Linked DNA regions of Homo sapiens: regions 1, 2 and 4 are each linked to region 3. Evidence: fine-mapped expression QTL. A gene starts in region 3. Each other region holds a variant in brackets. All regions are shown on one strand. Distances are from middle to middle.

Region 1 (5,000 bases), 160 kb before region 3:
CAAACACTTTGGGGGGCCAAGGCAGGAGGATCACTTGAGGCCAGGAGTTCAAGAGCAGCCTGGGCAACATAGCAAAACCCCATCTCTACAAAAAATTTTAAAAATTTTAAAAAAAGAAAATACCATATCATCTAAGTTTAAAATAAGTTTTAAGATTATACTTTTTGAGTTCTTTTATTTATAATTTTATAACTCACCGTATTCTCCCATACTTGAGCCAGCCTGCTTAAATTCTGAGGTTCAAGTTCCAATTCTGTTATTTGTCCTACTTATACTTTGTTTAGTAAAGTAAGCTGCTAGGTATTGAAGACAAGCTTTAATTAATGAATATGGACCTAGCTGCTTTAAAAGGCCATTTTCGTTATCTAAAAAAGAAAATAATACCCAAAATAGAAAAGTGTATATTTGCCCACTCATAATGTTTTGAACTGATCTCAGATTCCAAGATAGATCATACTGGGACAGACTGTCAATTCACCTTCCACATTTAAATCTTCCAAAATGAATGAGGCATCCATAGACTAGGATGTGTTCGGTTTTTTTGTTTTGTTTTGTTTTGTTTTTCACTTAAACCTGAGAGGTTTCATTTAAGTATTCTTTCCATTTATTCCTGCTACTTTGCAGATGTTTGTTTTTTTAATAACAATACAGAAAAAGGATAAAGTACCATTGAACTACAACCCTTATAATACCTGATGAGTTTCTTAATTAAAGAAATGTATGCCAGAAATTTTAAATGAGAAGTATCTGTCTCCTCTGCCATCATACCACTTCTCAAAAAAGTTTAACTACTGTTAACATTTTCATAGCCTGCCACAAGAAAAAAAATGCATATATATAGATCTTGGTATAACTTTTTTATTTATAGGGAAGGTATCATGCACTGCTCTGCCACTTGTTCTTTTCACTTAGTATCTTGGAGATTGCTCCACGTCAGCAACAATCGATTTCATTCTTTTCAGCAGATACAGAGGATTATGTCTGTACCACAGTGTATTTAACCAGACCAGACCTCTGCTAATGGACCTTTAAGTTGTTTCCAGTTTTTGCTGTGATATGTTTTAGTGAACATTTTTAAATAGTTCTGTTGGTATACTTTTGTAAGTATATTCATAAGGGACATTTCTATTAACATACTTCCTTGGTCAAAGTATCTGCATACTGGAAAATTGCCTTCCAGAGTTAGACCAGTTTACACTCCCATAAACAGTGGCTACATTCCTATACACTTGCCAACACTAGGTTTTACCAAACGTATTTTAGCCAAGGTTGCATAACCTGGAACTTTCTAGGGAACTCTGTTAGGTGTTTAGAGAGATACTAAAAATAATAGTAATTAGCAAAAAGGGTGCTTACTGTATGCTAGGCACTATGTACTTTACACGTATTAATTCTTTTAATATTCATAACAACCTTAAGAAGTGGTTATTGTTATTCCAAGATGAGGAAATAGAAACAAAGGTTCAATAACTTGCCTAAAGTCAAATAGGTAGTAACTGGGGAAACTGGAATTCCAACCGAGGCAGTCTGGCTCCATATCCAACCTCTTAAAACACTTCACTTTGCTGCTCTAATTTCTGCCTATCCAGGAACTTAATCTAGTTGCTAAAAACAAATGTTGTTAGCTATCTCTTACATTAGGCACTAAGCTCCACTGGGCATTGGCCCTGCTTGTTTCCTTTGCCACCATAGGGGTTTTTTTTGTTTTGTTTTGTTTGAGACAGAGTTTTCCTCTTATTGCTCAGGCTGGAGTGCAATGGCGCAATCTTGGCTCACTGCAACCTCTGCCTCCCAGGTTCAAGTGATTCTCCTGCCTCAGCCTCCCAAGTAGCTGGGGTTACAGGCATGCGCCAGCACGCCCGGCTAATTTTGTATTTTTAGTAGAGTAGTTTCTACATGTTGGTCAGGCCGGTCTCGAACTCCCGACCTCAGGTGATTTCGCCCACCTCAGCCTCCCAAAATGGTGGGATTACAAGTGTGAGCCTCCGCGCCCCAGCCAGGGGTTTTTAATTCTACTAACCAGATATCTATTAGTGCCCAGCATGGTTGTCTGGCATACACTATGAAGAAAGAAACCAAAGGAATGCAAGGAGGTAGGAAGGATAAGGAAGAAGAAAGAAGGAAGGATTTCCACATATAAGACAGTATATAGTTAGTGTTTAAAAAATAATAAAAGCAGAATGGGAAAAGGGGTTTCTGGACAGACAGTT[C/G]CAATAGAGAAATAAGTATGGTACCAAATGAATAGTGTAAAGATCAGTATAACATTGCGTAGGATGAAGTCAGGCTGCAGTGGAAGAGATAGAGGCCAAAGATGCAATTAAGAATTGCAGTAGTATGTGATAGTATTATCTAGGTATGAGAGATTAAACTCTTGGTTGTGGGGTGAGTTGCTGGCAGTGAAAAAGTAGAGGAAGAGTCTAAAGCTGAAAAATATCCAGGAAAGAACTGATGGGACTTACCTGTAGAAGAGAAAAAGAGATAGAAGAGCCGAAAATAACTACATTTAGAGCTAGCCTTACTAAAAATTAGTTATGTTATTCAGAGAAACAAGGAATAAAGAAGATAATGTGCTTAAATTTCCACTCATTGAATTTGACTGACATCATTACACCTAAATATAGATATCCACTGTGCAGATAAAGACTAGCTTACAAGAAGGTCAGGTCATCAGCATAAATATCTACTTGATGATATCAAGCACGCATTATCACAAATTTTTTTCCCATATTAGGACAAGGATAGTGGGAAAACCTCTGTGGTTGTCGGGACATGGAACCAAGAAGAGCATATTGAATGGGCTAAGAAGAATACTGCTAGAGCTTATCATCTTCAAGACGATGGTACCCAGACAGTCAGGTAAAGATTCACTTTACTTGCCTTTGGAGCTAATTACTACAATTTCTAAAACTCAAAATATTGAAAAACATAAAAATTCAAACATTTAAGTAAAATCCCTGTTTAGTTTTTTTCAAGGGATATCTTTTAGGTTAGTTTTCTTTTCTTAGGGAAGCAACACAGTGTAATAGTTCAGAGCACAGTCCCTGGAGTCAGACTACCTGGATTCAAATGCTGGCTCATCACTTCCTACCTTGGAGAAATTACATCATCTTTTTTATCTCTCACTTTTGTTGTGTAATGGTATTTGCCTCATATGATTATTGTGTCATTTAAGAGGTAATTTATGTAAAGGAGAATGCCTGGCAATAGCATGCAATAAACCTGGGCTGCCACCCATAACAGTGGGGGTGATAACATTAATGAGAGTGGCAGTGGTGTTAGTAACTGGCTCAATTCTGTCAGAACTGAGGGTGTTTTTTAAAAACTACCTCACATCTCTTTTAGGATATATGAGTATACCTTGTCAAAACACCAGTAAGTTAATCTCATTTCCCAAGAATAACTACGCATTAGCTTTTCTTGCAGACTCTTAACTCAGTATGTTTTCAATTATTCCTTCTTGTTCCTTCTTGGGTATTACCTTTTCCTTCCTAAAACAGATGATTTGGATTGTTTTCAGAGTGTACTGACTTTTCGGGCTGATAAAAGTCAAAGTCAGCCAAATTAAAACATAGACTTTTTTTTTTTTAATACTTTAAGTTTTAGGGTACATGTGCACAATGTGCAGGTTAGTTACATATGTATACATGTGCCATGCTGGTGTGCTGCACCCATTAACTCATCATTTAGCATTAGGTATATCTCCTAAAGCTATCTTCCCCCCTCCCACAGACATTTAATTATTGTACTAAACAAATTGATTTTTCTTATCCTTGTAGGTATATGTTTTATGTGAAAACAGTTTGTGGTATCATGTACAATATATGTTGAAGAATGAGTGTTAGACTGGTAAAATGAAGCTTTTCTTTGGATCCTGCTCATTTGAGATTGACAGTTTGGCCTAGGCTTTGTCTTCTATACTACAGTGCCTAACGAACAGTATTTTAATGGGAGTAGCTTGATGGAGGACGGAAGCAAAGAACTGTTTTACAAAACAATATAGTGGGCTAGGGAAATTGATAACTTTAAAACAATTTTTTTAAAGGAATCTAACCAAAATTATTTGTATACAAATAAATAATATGCAAGTTGAAAATAATTATTAACTAAGCCAGTATGAAGTATCTCTTATATTCTCTTTATAGAATCCAAGAGAATGCCTCTGTGAGATAACCCTAAAAATATTTTTTTAAAGAATATTTTATAGTCAGGTTTTTTTTTAACTAATGCAAAACTGATCCCTCTAACCATCTTCTCACCCTACCCATTACAATTATTCTATTAGTGAGATTTTAGTTTAATAAAACTTGTGTGTTTCTCTGATTCAGGATGGTGTCACATTTTTATGGAAATGGAGATATTTGTGATATAACTGACAAACCAAGACAGGTGACTGTAAAACTAAAGTAAGTTAGACCATCAAATCATGCTGTATGCCTTTGTCTTTTAACTGCTTCCTATGGACAAAAGTTTTATGTAAACAGTATAATTATGAATAATTATGAAAGTATACCATTTAAATTATTGATAAAATTATATTAAATCATACAGGGTCCACTTGAGTGGGATTTTTAAGAGTACAGTTATTAACAGTGATCTTACTTTAAATGATTTGGACAGTACCTTAAAGTGCTCTCTGTTTTAGGTGCAAAGAATCAGATTCACCTCATGCTGTTACTGTATATATGCTAGAGCCTCACTCCTGTCAATATATTCTTGGGGTAAGTTAAAAAGAAAATAATCAAAAATTCCATTTTGAGCCATGTTTTAATTTTTTTTTCTTTTTTTTTTTTTTTTTTTTTGTTTTTTTGAGACGGAGTCTTGCTCTGTGGCTCAGGCAGAGTGCCGTGGCATAATCTTGGCTCACTGCAACCTCTGCCTCCCAGGTTCAAGCAATTCTTCTGCCTCAGCCTCCCGAGTAACTGGGATTACAGGCGCACACCACCACACCCAGCTAATTTTTGTATTTTTAGTAGAGACGGGGTTCCACCATGTTGGCCAGG
Region 2 (5,204 bases), 86 kb after region 3:
GGGAGAGGGCAACAGGTGTTCTGGTCTTTCATTAAATCTCATTTCAAGAAAGGGAAGAAAGCAATTTCCTGTCAAGAAACTTGATGTTGATACTGGCACAGACTCTCTGGGTAGAGGATGGAATTGGTATAAAAACCCTAACCAGTAACTCAGGCCCTAGGCCCAGATCCTGGCTTATATTCAAGTACAGTTTCGAGATAGGGATTTTCCTGTACAATGAAAGAACAGCTTCTGAGTGCCTATCATAACCCAGAGCTGGTAAGGGTTTAAGACGTTTGCTAGACTTCTGCCTACAATGGAATAAGATAACTTATTCTGGGAACATTATTAGTTACAGTGAGATGTAAAATTCACCTTCTTTTCATTGAGGTGGCACTTAAAAATAGCATAAGAGACAGATAGTTTCTAGATTAGGTATAATGTGCTAATAATGTAAAAAAGGTTCTTCTTTTGCTTCTTTCTCTTTCTTGCCAACGATGCATTTCTAAGTTTCTCTTTTAAAGAAAATTTCCTGGGTCTGAAAAGGAAGTTCGAAGTCCTTGTGATATTCTGCTGACAGATTGATCTTGTTTTGATTTTCTTGAATGTTCTGTTCTCCTCTTCTGCAAACAATGGGTCATTTTTGTCTCTCGATTTTACTTAGCTGTGGTTTGAAGTCTTCTTAACATAACAGTACTGTGTGTTAACCATGCTATAATTAAAGAGTGAAGCTGAGGTTCTCCAGTGCTCCTTAAAGATTTCCTGGGTTAACTCTACCACAACTATACATCTCTGATAATGATATCTGCAGTCTTGTTCATAAAATAAGATGCATTACCAAGGTGAGATGATTGCCCACAATCATATATCTAAAGAAGGAACATATAACTCATCTGAATACAAGAGACTTCCTTCTAAAGGATTTGACATATCTCCCATTGTTTTCCCATGTTTGTCCTCATAGAAATCTAATGAGGTAGATATTACTTTAGAGATAAGAAAGCCAGGCTAAATAAATTAGGGAGATTTCTCCAAGAAGTTTCAGTAGTAGTGTGCAGACTAGAAGTTGTATTTTAATTCTCTGGCTTTACGTAAATATTTACTTACTAACTTTTCCTCATATAAAAAAGAGCTGGCTATGCAACAACTGGTTTTTCTTTTTCTTTTTTTCTTTTTTTAGACAGAGTCTCGCTCTGTCAACCGGGCTAGAGTGCAGTGGTGTGATCTTAGCTCACTGCACCCTCCACCTCCCGGGTTCAAGCAATTCTCCTGCCTCAGCCTCCCAAGTAGCTGGGACTACAGGTGTGCACCACCACACCTAGCTAATTTTTGTATTTTTAGTAGAGATGGGGTTTCACCATGTTGGCCAAGCTGGTCTAGAACTCCTGACCTCAGAGATCCACCTGCCTTGGCCACCCAAAGTGCTGGGATTACAGGCACCCAGCCTGGTTTTTCTTAAATGAGATAATTTCTTCCTTTTTTCCTAAATCATGTGTCAGGAATAATAAAATTATTATTTATAGTAATTCCATTACTCACAGTAATAATTGTGATAATAATGTAAACAATTTGTATTTATATAGCATTCTATTATTCACAAAGCATTTTGACATATATTGTCCAATTTCATTCCTACAAAAATCCTTGTGAGGTAGATAGAAAAAGTATTATTTTCCTATTTTACAAATAGAAAATAGAGGCTCAGAGAAGTTAATCGAATTTCTTAATAGCATATATTTAGGACGTGATGGTGGAGATTGAATTTCATCCTAAATCTAACTCTAAAACCTGTCCTATGACACCCTCCATATACTACATAATAGCCAAAGACATATTAAGCCTATCTGCTGTTCAACAAATTACATGCACCCAGAGGTCCAATTTGGCAGAGAGAACAATGCATCTAAGTGTTCAGTTATGAATTGAATTCTGAAGTTAGAGAAATATTTGACACATATTGAAATTGTGTATTCTGTAACATGTGTTGTGATAAACACAGAGTCTAATAATGTGTAGTACTGTCAGATATAGTACCTCCATAGACATACTGTAATATAGTAGTACTGTCAGATATAGTACCCCCATAGGCATACTGTAAATAGATTTCTTTCACTCCATGGAAACCTAAGCTCAGAGAAGTTAAATAAATTATTTGCACCAGGCTCCTATGATTTCAAAATGCTGCTTTTTCTGGATTAATGTAGTTAATTTCAAAAAAGATGTCCATATAGAAAAGGTTCTCCAGGGAGTAGAGAAAAAGAGCTGGTTGTCTTCCACCAGCTTGAGGAGGATTCATGAGTGGAACCAGGCACTGGTGGAACTAATCAGGGTGTCACCCAAGCAGGACACCCTAAGTTTATCTGCTTATCTACTGAACTGATAGGCAGCAAAGAAGATATCACCATTCACGGCCTGGTGACATGGGCAGTTTCTGACATATTTGCCCATCGTCCAGGATACAATTCAAATAAAATCATATGTTCTTTCCACAGGTTGTCAACATCCCTTGACTGATTTAGGTTTGATCATATCCATTGGCAAGGGCACATGCTCACTGAGTTTAACAGAAGCATAATACCCTGTACTGCTTTTATTTCCATTTCTTTTTTAAAGATATTTTTGCTCAGAATGTGCAGTTGAATTCTAGATGGTAAAATAAGTATCAAATGGAACCTCTTTGTATTCTTTAAATGAATGATATCTTTCTTTGCATTTATAATGATGTATATTTTCAATCATGACACATTCTGGATTTTCTAAGATAGTTCTGTTTTCAAATTATTTATTTTTCCCATGGAAGGGCTTATCTTGGTCCAGATTTTTTATTCAGAAAATAGTAACTATATTGCATGTTGT[G/A]TATGTCATCTGTATTTTATTTGCCATTTGTCACCTGTACTTTAATAGCTTTCTACTATATTACCTGTTGATTCCTATATTAAGAATATAATGAATTTTCTGTAAATCTAAAATCAGAAAAAAATACTTTTAAAAAGAACTTAAAGGAACTTAATTATTTGTGTAAGACAAATGCTTTTTATTTCATTTATTCATTATATATGTTTAATATATCTAACTGATATGACAAATAGTTTATCAATATCTTGCTCACACCAAAACATTAATTCCATTTGCAAAACTATGTGAAAATTATAGCTATTATCCCAATAATTCAGATAAAATAGCTTTCTAGTGTGTTTTCCCTTTCAATATTTGGGTTGATAGGGAAGGGATATGAATTTTGACTTGAACCATAAATTAGATTGTCTAGATTGACTGATTTCATGACATAACTATGCAACCTGCCCTTGGGGTTTCTTGGTGATGAACTTTTTCTTACTGTTCTCACATATTTTGTTTCCAGCTATAAATTCATACAATTATCAGAGTTTGGTTTTGGTCAAGTCATAATTGTGAGTGAAGAACCATGGAAGGAGAACATTTCTTGCTCATCAACTACTTTCATAAAATCAACAATTTGCTTAAGTAAGTCTTCAAAATAAATACTGATTTTAATGAATATCTACCTTTTACAGTTCATCAGAACATTTTGGTATATAAAATTAGCCTCAGGATGGCAGAACTTATCTGTTAGAGACATTTTGAGGGAAAAAGTGCCCATGTAAAAGAAACGAATATTGAGTCTATGTTTGATTGATTCAATTCAAAGATAGTTTTTTACAGTCATGTAAGCACTGACAGACTGTTCTGTCTACCAGAGAAGTACGTTTTATTAGAAGCATACTAAATTTGTTTACTCTAGATTAATAGGTTCTGAATTTATACACTTCTTTACTGTTTTATATATATATGTGTGTATATATATGTTGTTAGCAAAAATATATATAATACTGTTGTTTATAGGATACTGAATATTTGGCAGTTTGTAAGGTGAATGTGGGAATTACTCAAATGAGGAGTCAAAGCAGGGAAGGCCCTGGGTGATGTAATGAGGTCACCATTTGAGAGGGGATTGAGTGGCTAAGGCAGAGCAGAGGAAGAGAGGCTTTTGATTTGGTTATTAAATGCCAAACAGATGTGGTGTAGTAAATGTAAAGAATCAATGAACATTTGGAAAACAAATATTTTAAATTCATATTTCATGCTTTGGGATATTCACTTATCACACATAGAAAATAGGAGAAAATATTTTTCCCTTTGTGAATAATGCTTTGAAAATTCAAGTATTGGTCCCTGAGGGAGGTAGGGCATATGAAGCAATGATTGGTCTCTTCCTAAATTTAGTAAATATTGGGTCTTTGAAGATAATTCACATTAAATGGAGTGTTGGTGTTAACGCATGATACAAGCTAAAATGTGAATAAGCTCTGGACTTATTCTCATTGGTTCTTTTTGGGGGCAGGGTTATCAGTTTGTTTTATCAAAGTAGTACAAAGCTATATACAATATTAAATAGTACTACAAAGCTTATATTAAAAAAAAAAAAAGCAGTACCTTCTCCCTCCCCTCAGCTGTGCTTCCCAGGGGCTTTTAAATCTTCAGTAGTTTTTCCTGATATAAAATGCCTATCATTATACACCTATGTCTTCATTTACAAATTTTAGATATTATCTATTAACCCCTGACACACACATATTTCCCTCTCCTGTCATTCTAATATAATTCTAACTTCATTTCTAGTTAATTCAATATCGAGTATTTACATTATGATGTCAGTGTTGGTCATTGGTAACCCAAGTATTGTACTTTGACTACTTATCCTTCATTGTACCACCTGTAAGAGTTAAAGAAAGAGGAAAGAAACACAAAATGTGGCTTGGCAGTTAAGACAGGTTTACTTTAGATAAAACATGAGAGGGGCTTCTGGCTGATAATTTTTTTTTTTTTTTTTTTGGTCAGGAGCACTTTCTCTTACAGACTATATATTGGAGTATATATTGGTCTTAGGGTGAAGGGGCTTATTATAAGCTTGGAATGTTTCTGTGTGAGGGAGAAGTTTTATGGTGGGGTTGGAATGTCTCTGGGAGGAGGGATGTTTATCTTGGGGCAGACATCTTTCCACCCAGATGGGGGTTATCTCAAGGCTGGTATCTTCCCCACTGGAGGTGGGTTATCTCATGGCTAGCATGTCTCTGGTCACGGAGGGGTTTGGAAAGTTTCTGGTTGGAGATGTTATTTGTGGTTTATGGTCATGCTGGCCTAAGCCATTAGGCTGATGCCCTTTGGATTTAGGCAGTTTTTTATTAAGGTGAACTTTAGAATGAGGG
Region 3 (5,204 bases):
TGGGAGGCCGAGGTGGGCAGATTGCTTGAGGTCAGGAGTTCAAGACCAGCCTGACCAACATGGTGAAACCCTGTCTCTACTAAAAATACAAAAAAAGTAGCCAGGCATGGTGGCACTCGCCTATAATCCTACCTACTTGGGAGGCTGAGGCAGGAGAATCGCTTGAACCCGAAAGGCAGGGATTGCAGTGGGCCAAGATCCTGCCACTGCACTCCAGCCTGGGCAACAAAGCAAGACTCCACCTCAAAAAAAAAAAAAAAAAGAATTATTTAGTCCAATCCCCTCATTTCACGCACAAGCATACTGAAACACATGATTAAGTAACTTTCCCACAGTCTCAGAGCTAGTGGGAGAAACTAGATTTTCTTTTCATTACCACTTTCTATTCTACAAAGTACTAAATATGATCACCACTCAGCTTTCGTCACACGTTTTGGCATTATTCAGATGTTCACTTATGCAACACAGAAGGCTTAAAAAACAACAAGCACAACTATGAACAGGTCACCTTAACATGACTTAGGAAAAAAACACACCCAAGATCACAACATGTCCCACCGCATTCAAAATGTCTCATAGTGCAATATCAAGAATCAGTTTCCAGCATCTAACCACTATTCCAAAATAAAATTCTACCCAGTAGCATTTCTTGCTGGTTATTTAGCTATAAATGGTTATGGGTTCATGGGTATTAAGCCATCAGCTATCTGCAATCCAGCCCTAAACACCAAACATTAGCTCCATTGTTATTTTTAGCCCTTTCTAGGTACAAACTTTTATCTAATAAGCCAAAACAATAACAAAACTCGGAGTGCTAATTTACCAAACTTGTTAACAATAAATACTTTAGAAAACAATGCTTAACTATGCCTTGGTAGATTCTAGGTTTATAAATCCAAAGCAGATATGCCTTCACACCATGGCATATTTATATAATGTACACTAAAAAAAGCTGTTTGCGTCCCCAAAAATGGTAGGTATTCTCTGGCAAGTCTAATCCAAGTGATTAAAATGGGGAATTACTGTAACAAAGTGACTATTTTTACTGTGCCTGAGCAACACAAAAACCTAGGAGTCTCACTTGAAAAAGCATTTGGATTTTAACTATTTATAAAATATTCTTTTTTGACTAAACGTGGTTCTCCCTGTTGCATTCCTGCTTCTGCCGCCCCTCACCTCCATTCTCCTAAGGATCCTAACACGAAAAACTTCATTATACTCTAGTCAAGGGGAGAGCTGTTAACCTTGACATTTTATGATCACTCTCTGAAGAGGGCAAATTACATGTTTTAGTTTTGCTTCTTTTTAATTAAAAAGGTCCCACCCACCCCTCAAGTGGAAATGAGAAATTTGTCAGAGGCCCCTTAATAATTGGCAGATGAGAATCATCCAGTGAATATACACAAAACTATTACAAAACCCTGAGTCATCACTCAGTTCAATCAGCAGCTTTGGGTAAACACTGAATGAGTGAGTTATGTCTTGTGTGTTCACCCGTCCATACCCACATGCGTGAACATACCATGTTACTAGATTTTATGTACAGTTAACCAAACAAGATACAGCAAAATTCTTTCTTAAAAAGCTCTTCGGACACAGTAAAGATGCCCATCCAGCAAGTAAATGTAACCTTTTTTCCCCCACTGTATTTTCACTCGTTTTTTTTTTTTTTTTCCTAATTTCAGTGACACTATAGTTTGAAGCTAGTTTACAAACAGAACTCCTGAAACTGATTTAGGTAATCTCTTAATCTGAGTAACTCAAAAAATTAACACAAGCCTGATACTAATATCGCCCTGGACATCCTGACAGTGCTCTTCCCTACTTTCCTCAGTATCTTAAATGTCTCTCCAAAAGAAATGTCACAACAGGAGCAACACACAATCCAAAACAACACTGTCCACATAAGACGTTAAGCTCAAGAATGAGGTCTGACTTTAAACGACCCTTTTCGATCAACTCCGCCAGGTCTGAGAGGGCCCCCAAAAAGCAAAACCCTTAAGTTTCCCTATGGTCTTCTCTCCATTCAGAAAGTTACTAGACGCCAACGGAGATGCGAAGAGGCGGGGATCGTAGGGGAAGGAAGAACCGGAGGAAGCAAGGAGACAAGTCAAGGAACTCCCCCAAAGACAAATTCTCTTTGCCCCGCCTCTCCCATGCGCAAAAGTCCACGGAGGACCCTTGAGAAAGGCTCACCTCTCTCCCTCGGGGCCGGGGCCCTTGGGCTACCCAGGGCCCCCCAGGTGGGAAGACAACAACCCGAACACTTCGGGAGAAGCAGATGCGGAGGACGTAGAGGGATGGTAAAGACCCGGGAAGTCCCGTAGGAAAGTGGCAGGGAGGACGGCTTGAGTACTTCACAGGCTCTGTCACGACCCTGGGATCACCGCTCGGGGACAGCTCCAGCGAGGACAGAGCTAAGGGTCCAGCCCTCTGGACAAAGAGCAACCATCCCCGACACCTCTCACTGAGCCTTTCCCCCCGGCCCGGCCCGCAGGCCCGGGCACACTTACGTGGAGAGTTTCCTGGTCCAGAAGAGGCCCCCGGGCCACAGCTCTTGGAGCTGCACGGCCCGGCCCAGGTTGCATTTGATCTGGGCCAGCTGCAAGTCGGACTCGGCGTCTAGCCGCTCCGCGTAGGGCAGCAGCTTGTTGTAGACGATCTCCTTCTGCGGGACGAAGCCCCGCGGGCCCGGCTCGGGACGCCCGCCCGGCTCCGGGGGCTCTCCGACTCCCGCCCGCTCGGCCGGCTCCATGAGCCCAGGGACACCCCCCCCACCCCCTCCCACCCGAACCCTCCCCGGCCCCCACCCCTCTCCGGGCTCCGCCTCCTCCGCGTCTTCGTCGCCCTGCGGCCGCTGGCGGCCCGTCGCCCTCGGACCGATCGCTAGGCCCCCTTCCCTGGCCGGCGTGCTGCTGGGCCCCACGCGGCTCTCAGTTCGTTGGCGGCGGCAGCGGCCGCTCTGCCCGCCCCGCACCGGCTCTGCTGGTGACGCTGCAGCCGCCGGGCCCAGAGGTTCCGGACCGGCCTCAAGTCACTTCCGGGGCGGGGCGGGGCGGAGCGACGGCGTCGGGGGAGGCGGTGGTGGCGGCAGCTGGAGCCCAACGGGCTGCGCCTTCTTCGCCGTGGGCCCGGCTCGGAGCCCCCACCCCAGGCCTCACCGGCCCAGCGCGAGGCTGCCTCACCGGAAACACGAGGCCGAATTCCAAGCTATTGTCCTGCTTCGCCGGGGGTCGCGCACTCCAAGCGGCAGCCCACTGGAGTCCCAGTCGCCACGACAGGCGGCAGCCAGGTCGGCCTGGTCCCCCTAGCCGAGCAGCCCCGGCTTCTGGGTTAGAGGGGTTTATGGAAAAGCCTACGTACCCACTTGCTCCTTATAGATTTATTTACTCCATCCCGCTTGTTCCTTATAGATTTAATTTTTCTGTCCCCTTTAAGTCCCCATCTTTCTGGTATTCTGGCCGCCATCATTCCAAAGAAGAAAATAGTTACTCGCTGAACAAATGCTATTTGAACAGCTGTTTTGTGTGTAAGGCGCTCAGTTTAGGCTATTGAGATAGAAAGTTTAACCTGGTTTCCGCCCTCCCAAGGACTTAGTCTAGCAGAGATAAAGACGTGAATTACAAGATAATGCTCTTAATTGCTAGATAAGTACAAGAATCCTTAGGAACTCTACAAAGAAGTTGAAACTAGGGGGTTTGAGAGGGTGTCATTTTCCTAGAAGTGATACTTAATTTAAGCTATGAAGGTTGAGTGCAAAGTTGGTTAGAAAAAGGAGGGAGGAGGACACGTATTTCAGCTGAGAGAACAGCTTTGACGCTGCAAGCATGTATTCTAAAAATTCAAAGTTCAAAATAGCGTAAGAGAGGGGACGGAGAAATGAGACTGAGAAGGCAATCCTAAGGAATTCAGAGCTTTATCCTAGAGACAAACTTCCAAAAGATTTTAAGCATAGCAGTGGGATGATATAATTTACATTTTTTAAGAATTACTCTGGCGGCCGGGCGCAGTGGCTCACGCCTGTAATCCCAGCACTTTGGGAGGCCGAGGCGGGCGGATCACGAGGTCAGGAGTTCGAGACCAGTCTGGCCAACATGGTGAAACCCCGTCTCTACTAAAAATACAAAAAAGTTAGCCGGGCGTGGTGGCGGACGCCTGTAATCCCAGCTACTCGGGAGGCTGAGGCAGGAGAATCGCTTGAAACCGGAAGGCGGAGGTTGCAGTGAGCCAAGATCGCGCCAGGGCACTCCAGCCTGGGCAACAAGAGCGAAACTCCGTCTCAAAAAATAAAAGGGCCAGGCGCGTGGTGGCTCACGCCTGTAATCCCAGCACTTTGGGAGGCCGAGGCGGGTGGATCACGGGGTCAGGAGATGGAGACCATCCTGGCTAACATGGTGAAACCCCGTCTCTACTAAAAATACAAAAAAATTAGCCGGGCATGGTGGCGGGCGCCTGTAGTCCCAGCTACTCGGGAGGCTGAGGCAGGAGAATGGCGTGAATCCGGGAGATGGAGCTTGCAGTGAGCCGAGATCGTGCCACAGCACTCCAGCCTGGGTGGCAGAGCGAGACTCCGTCTCAAAAAAAAAAAAGAGTCACTCTGGCTTCGTCTGGAAAATGGGTTGGAACTGACAAGATTGGGAACTGGAGGACCCTTTAAGGTGTGACATAATCATGGCCTGGATGTCAGTTGAAATTGAGAGCTACTTCAGCAGAATGGCTTGGGCTTAGTAGTTGACTGAAAGTGAAAAATTAAAAAGGAAAGAGACAAGACGACGCTGGGTAGATAGGTGAAGTCCTTCACTGAGATAAAGAACACAGCAGAAACAGCTTGGGAGGCAGAATGCCTATGGGATGGGTATGTTGACATATGTATCAGGAGGGTGATCTAAACTGAGATGCAGATTAGCGTGTAGATGGACGACAGGAGGGAAGGAAATATACAGTATGAAAAAATAGGGCCCTTCACAAATCTCTGAGGAGCCCCACATTTAAGGACAGACAGAGAAAAGGAAGGTAGGCCACAAAGAATATTCACAAAAAGCAGAGAGAGGAGGAGTTCTAGGAAACTGGGTGTCTCATGGAGAAGCGAACAATCCTACCTTAGGTAGCTAACAGGTCAAATGAAGTGAAACCTGAAAGGGTTTATTGGATAGTTTATTGATAAAGCGCATAAGAACAGTGTCGTTGGAGTGTAGAATAGAAAT
Region 4 (5,204 bases), 69 kb after region 3:
GAGAGTTTAATTTCTCATTGTAAATGAATAAAGTGGCATTTGAATGTCTAGGATCTCTCAGGGCCTACACCCAGGACATTGGCGGGACTGTTTCTGGACCATATCCTGAAAACTGGACACCCAACTGTGGTGCTCTGTTACCTCCTGCGTGGCCCCTGCGGTCTTCCCTGGATGATGCCTTGACTGCTTCATGGTCAGGTCCCTCTCCTCTGATTTCTAGATCACTCATTTAAGAGGACTTAGAGTTGTGTGAAGTAATGTTGTCCCTAATTAATATGTATATAATTTTACATTGAGTTTCTGGCCAAAGGACCTAACTCCTATTTTTTAATGTAGAGAAAAACTCCTTTAGAAAATATTTCAATGGACGTTAGAATTTTGTTTTGTTTTTTAAGACAGAATCTCGCTCTGTCACCCAGGTTGGAGTGCAGTGGTGCAATCTTGGCTCACTAGAACCTCTGCCTCCCAGGCTCAAGTGATCCTCTGGCCTCGGCCTCCCAAATACCTGGGATTACAGGCGCCCACCACCATGCCTGTCTAATTTTTTTGTATTTTTGGTAGAGACGGAGTTTCACCATGTTCCCTGGGCTGGTCTCAAACTCCTGTTCTCAAGTGATCCACCTGTCTCAGCTTCCCAAATTGCTGGGATTACAGGCATAAGCCACCATACCAAGCTTGTTTTGTTTTTTTGAGACAGAGTCTTGCTCTGTCACCCAGGCTGAGGTGCAGTGGCACAATCACGGCCCACTGCAGCCTCAACCTCCTAGGCTCGAGCAATCCAACCACCTCTGCCTCCTGAGTAGTTAGGACCACAGTGAACCCCTATGCCTAGTTAACTTTTAAATTTTTTGTAGAGATGAGATCTCACAATGTTACCCAGGCTAATCTTGAACTCTTGGCCTCAAGTGATCCTCCCCCCTCACCCTCCCAAAGTGCTGGGATTACAGGGGTGAGCCATAATGCCCGGCCTAAAACATGCTTTTAATTAACTTTAAAAAAGTGAATAAAATATATAGTAAAATCGAAATCAGAGTGCTTTTGAAACAAATGAAATGTAAGACTTTTAATAAGCTAGGTGGTTATCAATGGTCATATCAGAAGATTGAAAATATCAACATTATAAATATCAATAAACTATGAGAAACTTGGAAATTCTTTCAGGAATGTGAAGGTGACTTAGAGCTAGCAGGTGCTTTTCACTGTGTGCATCATGCAGATTGGAATAAATATTTCCCCAGGGTGTAAAAATCTCCGAAGCTTTCTCTCCTACACAGTGAAATTACTACAATTTAATATTCAGTGTTACCAACACCTTCCCTTATATAATAAGGAAATTAAAGCATGAAGTAGGAAAAACAAGCTGGATATATTGAGACAACTCTGGATCAACACTTCCTGGAAGGTGGGAGGACAGATTTATTCTAACCTCTGAGCGTCCTGATTCAAACATTTGTTCGGTTGTCCTTGGCCTAGGATGCCCTTATTTTTGGCCTGGTAGACACCTCCTCATTCTCCAAGATTCACATTAAGTTCAGCTTCTCTGTGAAGGCTTCTTTCACCCTAAGGGTAAGTTGACCCTTTTCCCGTCTTCTTTGCTAACACTGCATACTCTTTGTTTTTTTTGCAAATATATCTTACTTTCCACTATATGTGAGCTTCTTGAGGGCAGGGATTTAAATATATATATGTATGTATTTTATTTACTTAACATAGTACTTACTAAGTGCGTGGTGCTATTCTAAGCACTACATAAGTTATTGATCATTTAATCCTTGTAATAGTCCCATGAGGCTTATTATTATCTCCATTTTGTAGATGAGGAACCTGAAGTGCAGAGTGTTCAGTAACTTTATTCCTCTCTGTTTCACCAGAACCTAAAGGTGATTCTTTGCATACAGTAGGCATTCATTCATTCAATAAATCTTTATTGAATACTATATATATATATATATATATATATATATATATATATATACTCTTCTAAGTGCTAAGATACAGCAATGAAAAAAGATGAAAAAACCCCCACCTTTTTGGAGCTCACATTTTGGTTGTCAGAATAGGTAAAAAAAAAAAAAAAAAGATAAATAAAATAAACATTTGTTCCATAGGTGGCAATAAATTCTGCAGGAAAAAAAAGTAAAGCCAGTAAGTGGGAAAAGGAGCTCTTGAAATTGCAATTTTAGATGGGTTAACAGGGAAGGGCTCACTGAGAAGGAGATATTTGAGGGAAGGAGTTGAGTGAGTGAATGAGTGAGTCATATCTGGGGGAAGAACATCCCAGGAACAGCTAGTACAAAGGTCCTGAGGTGTCTGGAATGTTCAAGGAACAGCAAAGGGTGGGGAGCGTGCTCCTATAATAGAACAGGGAAG[T/C]GGGAAAGAAGTAGAGGGTGAGGTTGGGAGAGAATGGGCAGTGAGCAGAGCATGTAGGGCTTTAAAATAATTTTTCAAGTTGAACTTTTACTAAAAATATCTTTGGAAGTTTTTTTTTTTTTTTTTTCCCCAGCCTACATCGTGCTTTAATTTTTTTTTTCTTTTCTTCTCTTTTTTTCTTTTTCCTTTTTTTTGGCGGGGGGGGACAGGGTCCCACTCTGTGGCCCAGGCTGGAGGGCAGTGGTGTGATCTTGGCTCAAGCAACCTCTGCCTCCCAGGCTCAAGCGATCCTCCCGCCTCAGCCTCCCTAGTAGCTGGGACTACAGGTGTGCACTATCATGCCTGGCTAATTTTTGTATTTTTTCTAGAGATGGGGTTTCATGATGCTGCCCAAGCTGATCTCGAACTCCTGAGCTCAAGCAATCCACTCACCTTGGCCTCCCTAGTAGCTGGGACTACACGTGTGCACTATCATACCTGGCTAATTTTTGTATTTTTGGTAGAGATGGGGTTTCATCATGTTGCCCAAGCTGGTCTCGAACTCCTCGATCCACCCACCTCAGCCTCCCAAAGCTCTGGGATTACAGGCATGAGCCAGCACATGCAGCCCTTTGGAGGGCTTGGAGGGTTTTTGAGCAGAAGAGTGATCTTCTTGAATTTATGTTTTTATCGGTGTCACTCAGGCTTCTGTGTTTTATATTTGTTTTCTTTTGTGTGTGTGTGTGTGTGTGTGTGTGTGTGTGTGTGTGTGTGTGTGTGTGTTTTGAGACAGGGTCTTGCTCTGTTGCCCAGGCTGGAGTGTGGTGGTACAATCATAGCTCACTGCAGCCCCAAACTCCTGGGCTTAAGAGATCTTTGTGCCTTGGCCTCCCAAAGTTCTGGGATTACAGTCATGAGCCACTGTGCCTGGCCCAGGCTTCTGTGTTGAGAAGAATCTCAACATGTCAAAGATGGAAGCTGGGAGACTAGTTTGGAGGTTCCCACAGTAATTTAGGTAAAAGACAGCAGTGGTAGTAGTGGAAGTGGTGAGAATTGGTCAGATTCTGGACATATGCTGAAGGTTAATCAGACAGATCTGCTGATAGGTCAGATGTGAGGTGTGAGAGGAAAAGAAGCATCCAGTATGACTTCAAGGCTTTGAACTCTGCAACTCGGGAAAAGAAGAAAAGGAACAGGATTTGGTGGTAGGGCAGTGACAAGCAGCAATCAGGAGTTCAGTTTAGGACTTGTTAAACTTGAGATGTCTTTTATTCAAGTGATAATATTAAGGAGGCAGCTGGATATGTGAATCTGGGGTATAGGGGAGACATGCAGACCGGACACTGTTAGCACATCCTAGATGATAGTTCAAGTCATGAGACTAGAGGAGATTGCCAAATGAGTCAGTGAAGATGGAAAGCAGAAGAGGTACAAGGGCTGAATCTTGGGATGCTCCAAGTTTTGGAGGTCAGAGAGATGAACAGGACCTAACATAGAAGACTGATAATGAGCAGCCAGAGAAATAGGGGAAAGATTAGGTAAGTGCCCTTCTAAAAACTATATGGAAAGTGGTTCAGGAGGAAAGAGTAATCACATTCTACTAACTGATCAAGTAAGATGAAAATTAAGGCTTGGCTGTTGGATATAGCAACAGGAAAGTGGAGGAGATCTTGATGAGAGTGATTTAACTGAAGTGGATTGGATAAATAACTGACTATATTAGGTTTTAGAGAGGTACTGGACATGGGGAATATAGACAACCCCTAGGAAAGAAAGAAATGGAGGTAGTAGCTGAAAGAGGAAGTGAGGTCAACAGAGGGTTTTTCAAAAATGGGAGAAATAGTGTTCATAGATAGGTGGAAAAGATCCAGGGGAAAGGGATGAGCTGATGCAGGTGATTGAGAGGAGAATTGCTGGAGTGATGTCCTTGAGTAGGTGGTGTCTGGTTCACAAGGAAAGCGGTGGCCTTTTCTTTTCTTTTTTTCTTTTCTTTTCCTCTCTCTCTCTTTCTTTCTTTCTTTCTTTTTTTTTGTATTTTTTGTAGAGACAGGGTTTCACCATGTTGCCCAGGCTGGTGTTGAACTCCTGGCATCATGCAATCTGCCTGCCTCAGCCTCCTAAAGTGCTGGGATTACAGGCATGAGCCATCACGCCCGGCCAGCGGTGGCCTTTTCTAGGGGCACAGAGTGTTCCTCTACAGTCACAGGAAGGAAGCCCAGAATATGGGCATGATGCAGCGGTGGGTGTTTGTGGGAGCTCTCTTCTGATTCATTCTATTTTCTCAGTGAAATAGGAAGCAAGGGCATCAGAATGATGAGGGGAGGTGAGTAAGTATTTGAGGTTTGAGGACAGAGAAGGTGTGAAATAGTCACCCAGGAGAGTGGGAGAATAAAAGGGCCAGGGAAATTCAGTGTGGTTGTTAGCAGCATTAAGGGCTTACTCAAAACTTATGATCATGAATTTAAAGTGAGATCTCTTAGTATGGTTTGGTTCTTCACTAGTTGCATTTGGCTGCACAGGTGTACGACTGGACTATGGGGAATGTTTTCTTCAACAAAGGTTATTGTTTATTCAAGTGAGTATCTCAGTGTCAGAGGCGGCAAGGGAGCTGAGGGTACATGCAACATAATATAAGTGAGTTTAAGCTGGGTGAGGTATCAAATGAACGCATACATGAAAGAATAAATTGTTTCCCCACTTAGAATGCATTTTTTTCTTTTTAGAGTGGGGTCTTGCTCTGTTGCCCACGTTGGAGTACACTGGCACGATCACAGCTCACTGCAGCCTCAACCTCCTGGGCTCAAGCAATCCTCCCGCCTCAGCCTCCCAAGTTGCTGGGACCACAGGCATGAGAC

The links. PIP is the estimated chance that this variant, and not a neighbour inherited with it, causes the effect. A credible set is the group of variants that fine-mapping cannot tell apart.
Region 1: its variant is the best candidate, but not a certain one, in a credible set for the expression of PSME4 in whole blood (TOPMed, PIP 0.88).
Region 2: its variant is the best candidate, but not a certain one, in a credible set for the expression of PSME4 in whole blood (TOPMed, PIP 0.51).
Region 4: its variant is the best candidate, but not a certain one, in a credible set for the expression of PSME4 in lung (TOPMed, PIP 0.79).

Annotation. Positions count from the first base shown.
Region 1 is chr2:53,810,218-53,815,217 of GRCh38, forward strand. All of the region lies in intron 1 of GPR75-ASB3 (GPR75-ASB3 readthrough), which reads right to left. ERLEC1 (endoplasmic reticulum lectin 1) reads left to right here. Exons shown (of 14, transcript NM_015701.5): 11 at 2,732-2,856; 12 at 4,326-4,403; 13 at 4,643-4,718. Among named protein-coding and RNA genes, the nearest start is that of ERLEC1, 26 kb to the left of the region's middle. The variant C/G (reference allele first, on the strand shown) is at 2,211.
Region 2 is chr2:54,053,899-54,059,102 of GRCh38, forward strand. It overlaps a transcript of ACYP2 not described here. Among named protein-coding and RNA genes, the nearest start is that of ACYP2, 59 kb to the right of the region's middle. The variant G/A (reference allele first, on the strand shown) is at 2,836.
Region 3 is chr2:53,968,030-53,973,233 of GRCh38, forward strand. PSME4 (proteasome activator subunit 4) reads right to left here and starts at 2,964. Exons shown (of 47, transcript NM_014614.3): 1 at 2,514-2,964. The coding sequence starts at 2,755. It also overlaps a transcript of ACYP2 not described here. RefSeq lists enhancers at 1,812-2,576, 2,843-3,137, 3,433-3,482 and silencers at 2,633-2,832, 2,807-2,968, 2,843-3,232.
Region 4 is chr2:54,036,739-54,041,942 of GRCh38, forward strand. It overlaps a transcript of ACYP2 not described here. Among named protein-coding and RNA genes, the nearest start is that of PSME4, 68 kb to the left of the region's middle. The variant T/C (reference allele first, on the strand shown) is at 2,371.